2 linked regions of the Homo sapiens genome follow. The protein of the gene in region 1 purifies or fractionates together with the protein of each later gene. This does not show direct contact. Each region holds a gene or a part of one and is shown on either strand. Other genes may lie near its edges.

Region 1 (3,269 bases):
ACAGTGCCCAAAGTCTCTGGGGTTCTTGAGGGCACCACTTGAAGACTGACTTCTGCAGCAGGTTTAATGACTTGAATCTATCACCCCTTCTCAATATATACCTTTCTTGTTGCTCATTACCGTAAGTGTAAATATCCCTGATAACCAGTTTGTATGTACAACTATTACTATGTGTTTTCCTTTATGAAGCATGTCTCTGGGATTTCCTATTGCATAGCACCTAATAGCAACTAACAAAATGTAAGTTATAACAAATATTTCCAAGATGGTAATGAGCTCTTCTCTAGTTATATAGTCTTGGATACATCACTTAATCCCTCCAATCTTGGTTTACTACATTTTTGCAATGAATACACAAGATTTACGTATTTTCTAATCTTACATGTAGCATTAACTTCACATAAGTTTCTGATTATCATTCTCAGCCATATAAATGATAACATTTGTAAAGAGAAATTGCTTCATTCCTGGCCATTTACTCCCACTAGGTTTGAGCAATCTATTATTTATACAAGGAATTGTACAACTTTTGTTTTCTCTGGACAGTTCAAAAAAATAACTGATGTTTGACAAGAAGAAAAGAATATTGATCTTATTTATTTGTTTTTTGGGTTGATAAATAAAGCTAAATTTAAAAATCTGTAGGTAATACACTGTAGTGGCATAAATATTTAAGATCAGTAAAGGAAATCATCAAACTATTGTCATTCATACATGAAACGTACAAAGCAAATAGTTATGATTTAAAGATTTTAATACATAATTAAAAATCAACAATTATTACATAGTTATATAACATTGATACTGTTAGATATGTGGATGTATATATTTTTCTTTCCAGTAAAATAGTTTCATGCTTATAAAAGTCACCCTAGGTCAACTTGGGACAAAGAAAACAATGTACAGTAGAAATAAACCAAGTATTAAATAGAATATATAGGTAAGGAAAAAATATTATAAAGCAGTTACATTTTTGACACACACACACACACAAATAAATACACTTTTCTATTATTTGAAGGCAATTCACAATCATTTCCAGGAATTCCGTGAGAATTTAAGGCCATTTGTTCTAAAGAAATGCTTTAATTTAGACACAACTTCACAAAACTGTAATTCTTGTAAAAACTGTACATGCAAAAACCCTTTACAATTATTCGTGGACAGGCAGGTCAGTATATAGGAGTAGGTTATTTCACAAATGTGTTGTGCACTAAGTCACATAGTTGTATATATTTAACTGGGAATTTCACAAAAGACTTCCAGCCTGTGCACCTTGTGTGGCAACGTGGAATGGTGATAACAAGAAATTCCGATCAAGAGAGCCAGTATCCCTTTGAATTAAAATATCTAGACAAGATATAATGGAATAAAAAGTTTAAAACATCTGCTACATAGTTCACAGTTAAATAGTCTTGGTTTCAGTCTTTCTAAATAGCATTATTATATAAGGATGCTACTTTTTACAAAGTATTTTCTGTGCATTTATAGATCACAATGTTTGACTTTTTATAATTTCTACTTAGTGTTACAAAATACAAACCAACTGCAGTCTAAATTTAGAACCCAAACTCCATGAAAAATGCATGTTCAACCAGGAGACACATCTGCCGGGCTTAAACTCCCATACCCAGCAAACATTGCTGAGAAATTGTTTATTAAGCAGATGTAGTTTCTTAAGACAATCCAGTTACTGAAAAATAGAAAAGCATTTTTCCCTTCCCTTATTTGCAATTGTGTTTGTCCAGACAGTCATTCAAAGAGATATTGCTCTTGTGATTATAGCTATTGCAATTTAGAAGACAAAGGATTCAGTATTTAAAACTCTTATTTTTAAGAACAGTTATAAAAGTATTGAAATTTAAAAAGTAGTAACATGTAAACATTGATACAGAGACTGCTTTCCTATACACATAGCAGTCGAAGACAATATTTGAGTTAAAAACACAGTTTGTGCTTTTTCCCAACAATACATTGGAAATTAGCTGTTTCTGTTAAAAAAAAAAAGAAAGAAAGATTTAGAGAAGACATCCATACTTTGCTTCAAGCATTTAAACAATTTTTTCTGTTGCTCATGCAACAACCATATTTACAGTTTTGGTTTAGGAAGATATTTAAATTTGGATCCAAGAAAGCACATTAACTGCTGAAACCAAACTGAGAAAACTATCTCATTGCCTGGTTCATTACAGAGCACCAGGCACAAAGCATTAACTCAGCACTTTTGATTTGTAGTTGACATTAGCATTTCAGAGCACAGTCATATTTGAGTCTGTAACACATGTGTAGGTGGGGTGTATGGGGGAGGCGCAGGTGATGGCTTGATTCCTCGGGCTCTCATATAGGAGAGAAACTGCTCAGGGATCTCAGCTAGGACATCTTTAGCCAATCTAGCCATGCTCAGTATGTGGTTTCCACTTCTGTCAATATAATCCCTGAATGGCACAAACTAAAACAGAGACGAAAGAAAGTTATTTCACAGACTTTAGCAGGCTATGTAATAAACACAAAAAATCAACACATGTACACATTTGGTCATAGGAAAATCAGGGAATCTGAGAGTAATGGAGAGATGGATAACAATTATTATACATTTTTAAAAATATTCAATAGGCCAGGCATGGTGGCTCATGCCTGTAATCCCAGCACTTTGGGAGGCTGAGGTGGGTGGATTACCTGAGGTCAGGAGTTCAAGACCAGCCTGACCAACATGGTGAAACTGTGTCACTACTGAAAATACAAAATTAGCTGGGTGCGGTGGCACACCCTTGTAATCCCAGCTACTCGGGAGGCTGAGGCAGGAGAATTGCTTGAGCCCAGGAGGCAGAGGTTGCAGTGAGCCGAGATCATGCCACTGCACTCCAGCCTGGCCGACAGAGCGAGACTCTGTCTCAAAAAAAAAAAAAAAAAAAAATTCAATACACTACAAATAGCTATAAGTGACTAAACTTACATAATATATGCTTTATCTCAAAAGGAATGCAATCATTTTCTATGTTTTTCCTCCAATAACTCATGTCACTTAATCCTAATAGGCTTATTATGTTGCCAAATGTCTTCTGCAGTTTTAGGTTCTATACCCAGCCTGAATCCCAACAGGATGGAGCATTTAACCTCTTTGGGGCTTGGTTTCCTGTCAAATGGAGTTAATATATGCCTAATTCAGCTTCTGATATAAAAATACTACCCAATTCTGGATAAGAAATGAGTATTACCCAATTCAGGGTAAAATATAATAGTGTACATTGTTAAAAAGTCCTAAACACATT
Region 2 (3,824 bases), on another chromosome or scaffold:
TCAAGGGCTGGTGGTGAGTGATTGGTTTCCACTGCAAAGTTTACTTAGCATTGCCGGCTCTTTGGTTAGGGCTGGGATGGAAAGGTGTCCTCCAACTCCCCACTTGTGTGGGTTCCATCTTACCATTCCTGATATGGGCCCTGGGCCTTGCCTTCCTGTAGAGGTGCCTGAGTTTCAGTTCCTGATTGGAGATGAGGCAGCAACACACCTGAAGCAGACCATGAGCCATGACTCCCAGGCTGTGGCCTCCTCTCTGCAGAGCTGTTTCTCCCACCTGATGAAGAGTGAGAAGAAGGTGGTGGTGGAACAGCTCAACCTGTTGGTGAAGCGGATCTCCCAGCAAGGTGGACACAGTTATATTCCTGGTTGGGTGCAATGCTCTGGCCTGGGCTTCCCAGCAGACACCAGACTCTGGGGACAGTTCTCAACCCCCTTGCCCAAGTGGAACACTAAAAGGGGCCCCACTTAGATGACCTGTTGGCAACTTAGCATTGCTTGCCTAGTCTTTGTGGAGCAGGGCCCTTCTTAGTTGAGTGCTGCTTCCCAACTGGTCATCTTCTCCAGATGGTTGGAGGCAGACTGGCATAGAGGACTCTTAGGATGCCTTCCACCTAGGCATTCTGAGATTTTCCCTAGCCCTGCAGCTGCCCTCCATGGATGGACTTGTATCTCGGGGCTAAAGAGGCAGGAAGGGGACACGAGCATCCTCCCTCTCCTGGAAAGGACTGATGCCTCCAGCACTCAGTCATTTGATCTTTCCTTTACCTTCTGTGTGCCCAACCTTGTGCTAAGAAGAGTTCAGGAAATGACTGTGATGGGTGTGGTCACTGTCACCCTAAAGGTGGGGAGTCAACACAAGCAGTAAGAAACCCAAAACAGAACAGACTCCCAGCAATGAGCTTATGTGGTGCAGGCGATGAGGTCTCAGCTTCTTAGCCTGGCAGCCACAACCCCTTCTCTAGGTGGCCCAGAGCTCTCTTTTTATTTTACCTCTACAGGTTTCCCATTACCTTTGAGCCTTAGGGCATTATTTATTTGACCCAAGCATATTTTTTTCTGTTCAGTGTGTGTGTGTGTGTGTGTGTGTGTGTGTGTGTGTGTGTGTGTGTGTGTGTGTGTGTGTGTGTGTGTGGTCTCTTTCTGTTGCCCCAGGCTGGAGTGCAGTGGTGCGATCTTGGCTCACTGCAGCCTCTGCCTCCCGGGTTCAAGCAATTCTCCTGCTTCAGCCTCCTGAGTAGCTGGGATTACAGGCATGTGCCACCACATCTGGTTAAGTTTTTATATTTTAGTAGAGACGGAGTTTCACCATGTTGCCTAGGCGGGTCTCGAACTCCTGAGCTCAGGCAATTCACCTGCCTCAGCCTCCCAAAGTGCTAGGATTACAGGTGTGAGCCACCACGCCAGGCCCCTTGCCTCACTTTAAAGAAGCCTGGCTGGGCACGGTGGCTCACACCTGTAATCCTAACACTTTGGGAGGTTGAGGCGGCCGTATCACTTGAGGTCAGGAATTCAAGACCAGCCTGGCCAACATGGTGGAACCCCATCTCTACTAAAGATACAAAAATTAGCCAGGCGAGGCAGAGGTTGTGGTGAGCCTAGATCATGCCACTGCACTTCAGCCGGGGCAATAGAGTGAGACTCTGTCTCAAAAAAAAAAAAAAAATGCTGGGCATGGTGGTGTGTGCCTGTAATCCCAGCTACTCAGGAGGCTGAGGCGCAAGAATCACTTGAACCCAGGAGGTGGAGGTTGCAGTGAGTCTAGATTGCACCACTGCACTTCAGCCTGGGAGACAGAGCAAGACTCCGATTCGGAAAAAAAAAAAAGAAAAAGAAAAAGAAAAAAAATTTAAAAATTAAAGAAGTCCACCCTTGCCACTCTACCCAGGCTGAGCTCATTTTCCCTTGTCGTTTCCAGGACACATTTTGGCCCTCAGCGCATTCTGCCTCATGCTCTCTGGAGCAGACCGAGAGAGATTCTCTGAGACATAGAACTTTCTTTTTTTTTTTTGAGACGGAGTCTCGCTGTGTCACCCAGGCTGGAGTGCAGTGGTGCAATCTCGATCACTGCAACCTCCGCCTCCCGGGTTCAAGCGATTCTCCTGTCTCAGCCTCCCGAGTAGCTGGGATTACAGGCACGTGCCACCACACCTGGCTTTTTTTTTTTTTTTTTTTGTATTTTTAGTAGAGATGGGGTTTCACCATGTTGGTCAAACTGGTCTCGAACTCCTGACCTCGTGATCCGCCTGCCTTGGCCTCCCAAAGTCCTGAGATGACAGGTGTGAGCCACCGCGCCCAGCTGAGACACAGAACTTTCAGTGCTAAAAACTAGAAAGTCGCCGGGTGCGGTGGCTCACACCTGTATTCCCAGCACTTTGGGAGGCCTAGGTGGGAGGATCCCTTGAGTTCAGGAGTTCGAGACCAGCCTGGGCAATATAGCGACCCCCTCTCTCTGCAAATAATAAAAAACTTAGCCGGGCATGGTGGCATGCACGTGTGGTTCTCGCTACTCAGGAGGCTGAGGTAGGAGGATTGCTTGGTCCTGGACAGTTGAGGCTGCAGTGAGGTATGATCGTGCCACTGCACTCCAGCCTGGGTGACAGCGAGACCCCGTCTCAAAAAAAAAAAAGGGAAAGCTCGGGCATGTTGGTTACCCTTCATGAAACTCTTTTGCGTTATCTCCCTAGATTTTGAGCTCCAAGGGCAGTGGTTCTCATACAGGGGACATTTGGCTGTTGTCTGGAGCCATTTTTTGATTGTCAAAACCCAGATAGGGGTTGCTAGTGGCATCTTGTGGGTGGAGGCCAGGGAAGCTGCTACACATCCATCAGTACACAGGACAGCCCCCACAATAAAGAATTACCTAGCCCAAATGTCAGTAGCGCCAAGGCTGAGAAATCCCATCCTGAAAGGACCATACTCTAGCTCTTTTAGTGGCTAGTATAGTCCTGGGCATATGAATAGTCAAGATATGATGAAAGATGGTATTTGTATGGACTGGAGTATCAAGCAAGGCTCGACCCCCAAAGGGCTGGAGGCGTGGCCAGAAGGACAGGGCCACTTTGGCTTCTGGATTCCTGTGGCAGGGACCTTTTCCTAGGACTCCCTGGCCAATGTGGGGCTATGAACAGCACTGAGTATCCCCCTAAGTGACCTTGGGGTGCTCTGTGACCCTCAGCGGCTGCCGGAAACAACATGGAGGACATCTTTGGGGAGCTTTTGCTACAGCTGCACCAGCAGTACCCAGGTGATATCGGCTGCTTTGCCATCTACTTCCTGAACCTGCTTACCCTGAAGCCTGGGGAGGCCATGTTTCTGGAGGCCAACGTACCCCATGCCTACCTGAAAGGAGGTGAGCCACATTTCAGCAGTGAGCCCCACTGCCATCCCTGCTGGGCCCTGTTTCCCTATCTGGACAAAGGAAGGAGAAGGGTGGTCAAGGAGACCCCCAAGGACCTTGCAGCTCTGACCTCTGAGGGTTCCTGGGCTCAGCAAGCAACAGCTGGTAGGGATGATGAATGCATTTAGCATTGAACACGCCTTGAATCCTGACACCAACCCTGTGATGCCATGCTACTCTGATTTTAAGTCCTGCCAGTCAGTGTGGGAACCACAATTTGAACGCAGGCTATATTGGATCAAAGCTGTTGTTCTGTCACAGCCTTTGTATGTCTGTCCTACCTACCAGGGATTTTTACACTAAAATATGCATGTTGCCATGGAAGGATGCCACCTTTCGACTGTTGGCTGCTTATCCACACATGCCTCATGCACAGGATTCTGGGGTAGAAGTGGGAGACTACAGAGTTGGGGCTCCCCAACCCCCA

The links.
Region 2: the proteins of CPNE8 (region 1) and MPI purify together in Homo sapiens (affinity purification with mass spectrometry; one large-scale study listed by BioGRID and IntAct). This does not show direct contact.

Annotation. Positions count from the first base shown.
Region 1 is NC_000012.12:38,651,622-38,654,890, forward strand, and holds the end of CPNE8 (copine-8), read right to left. Parts: intron 2,450-3,269; coding exon 2,261-2,449; 3' UTR 582-2,260; downstream 1-581. UniProt on the Homo sapiens protein: Probable calcium-dependent phospholipid-binding protein that may play a role in calcium-mediated intracellular processes.
Region 2 is NC_000015.10:74,892,977-74,896,800, forward strand, and holds part of MPI (mannose-6-phosphate isomerase), read left to right. Parts: intron 1-161; coding exon 162-344; intron 345-3,175; coding exon 3,176-3,349; intron 3,350-3,824. UniProt on the Homo sapiens protein: Isomerase that catalyzes the interconversion of fructose-6-P and mannose-6-P and has a critical role in the supply of D-mannose derivatives required for many eukaryotic glycosylation reactions.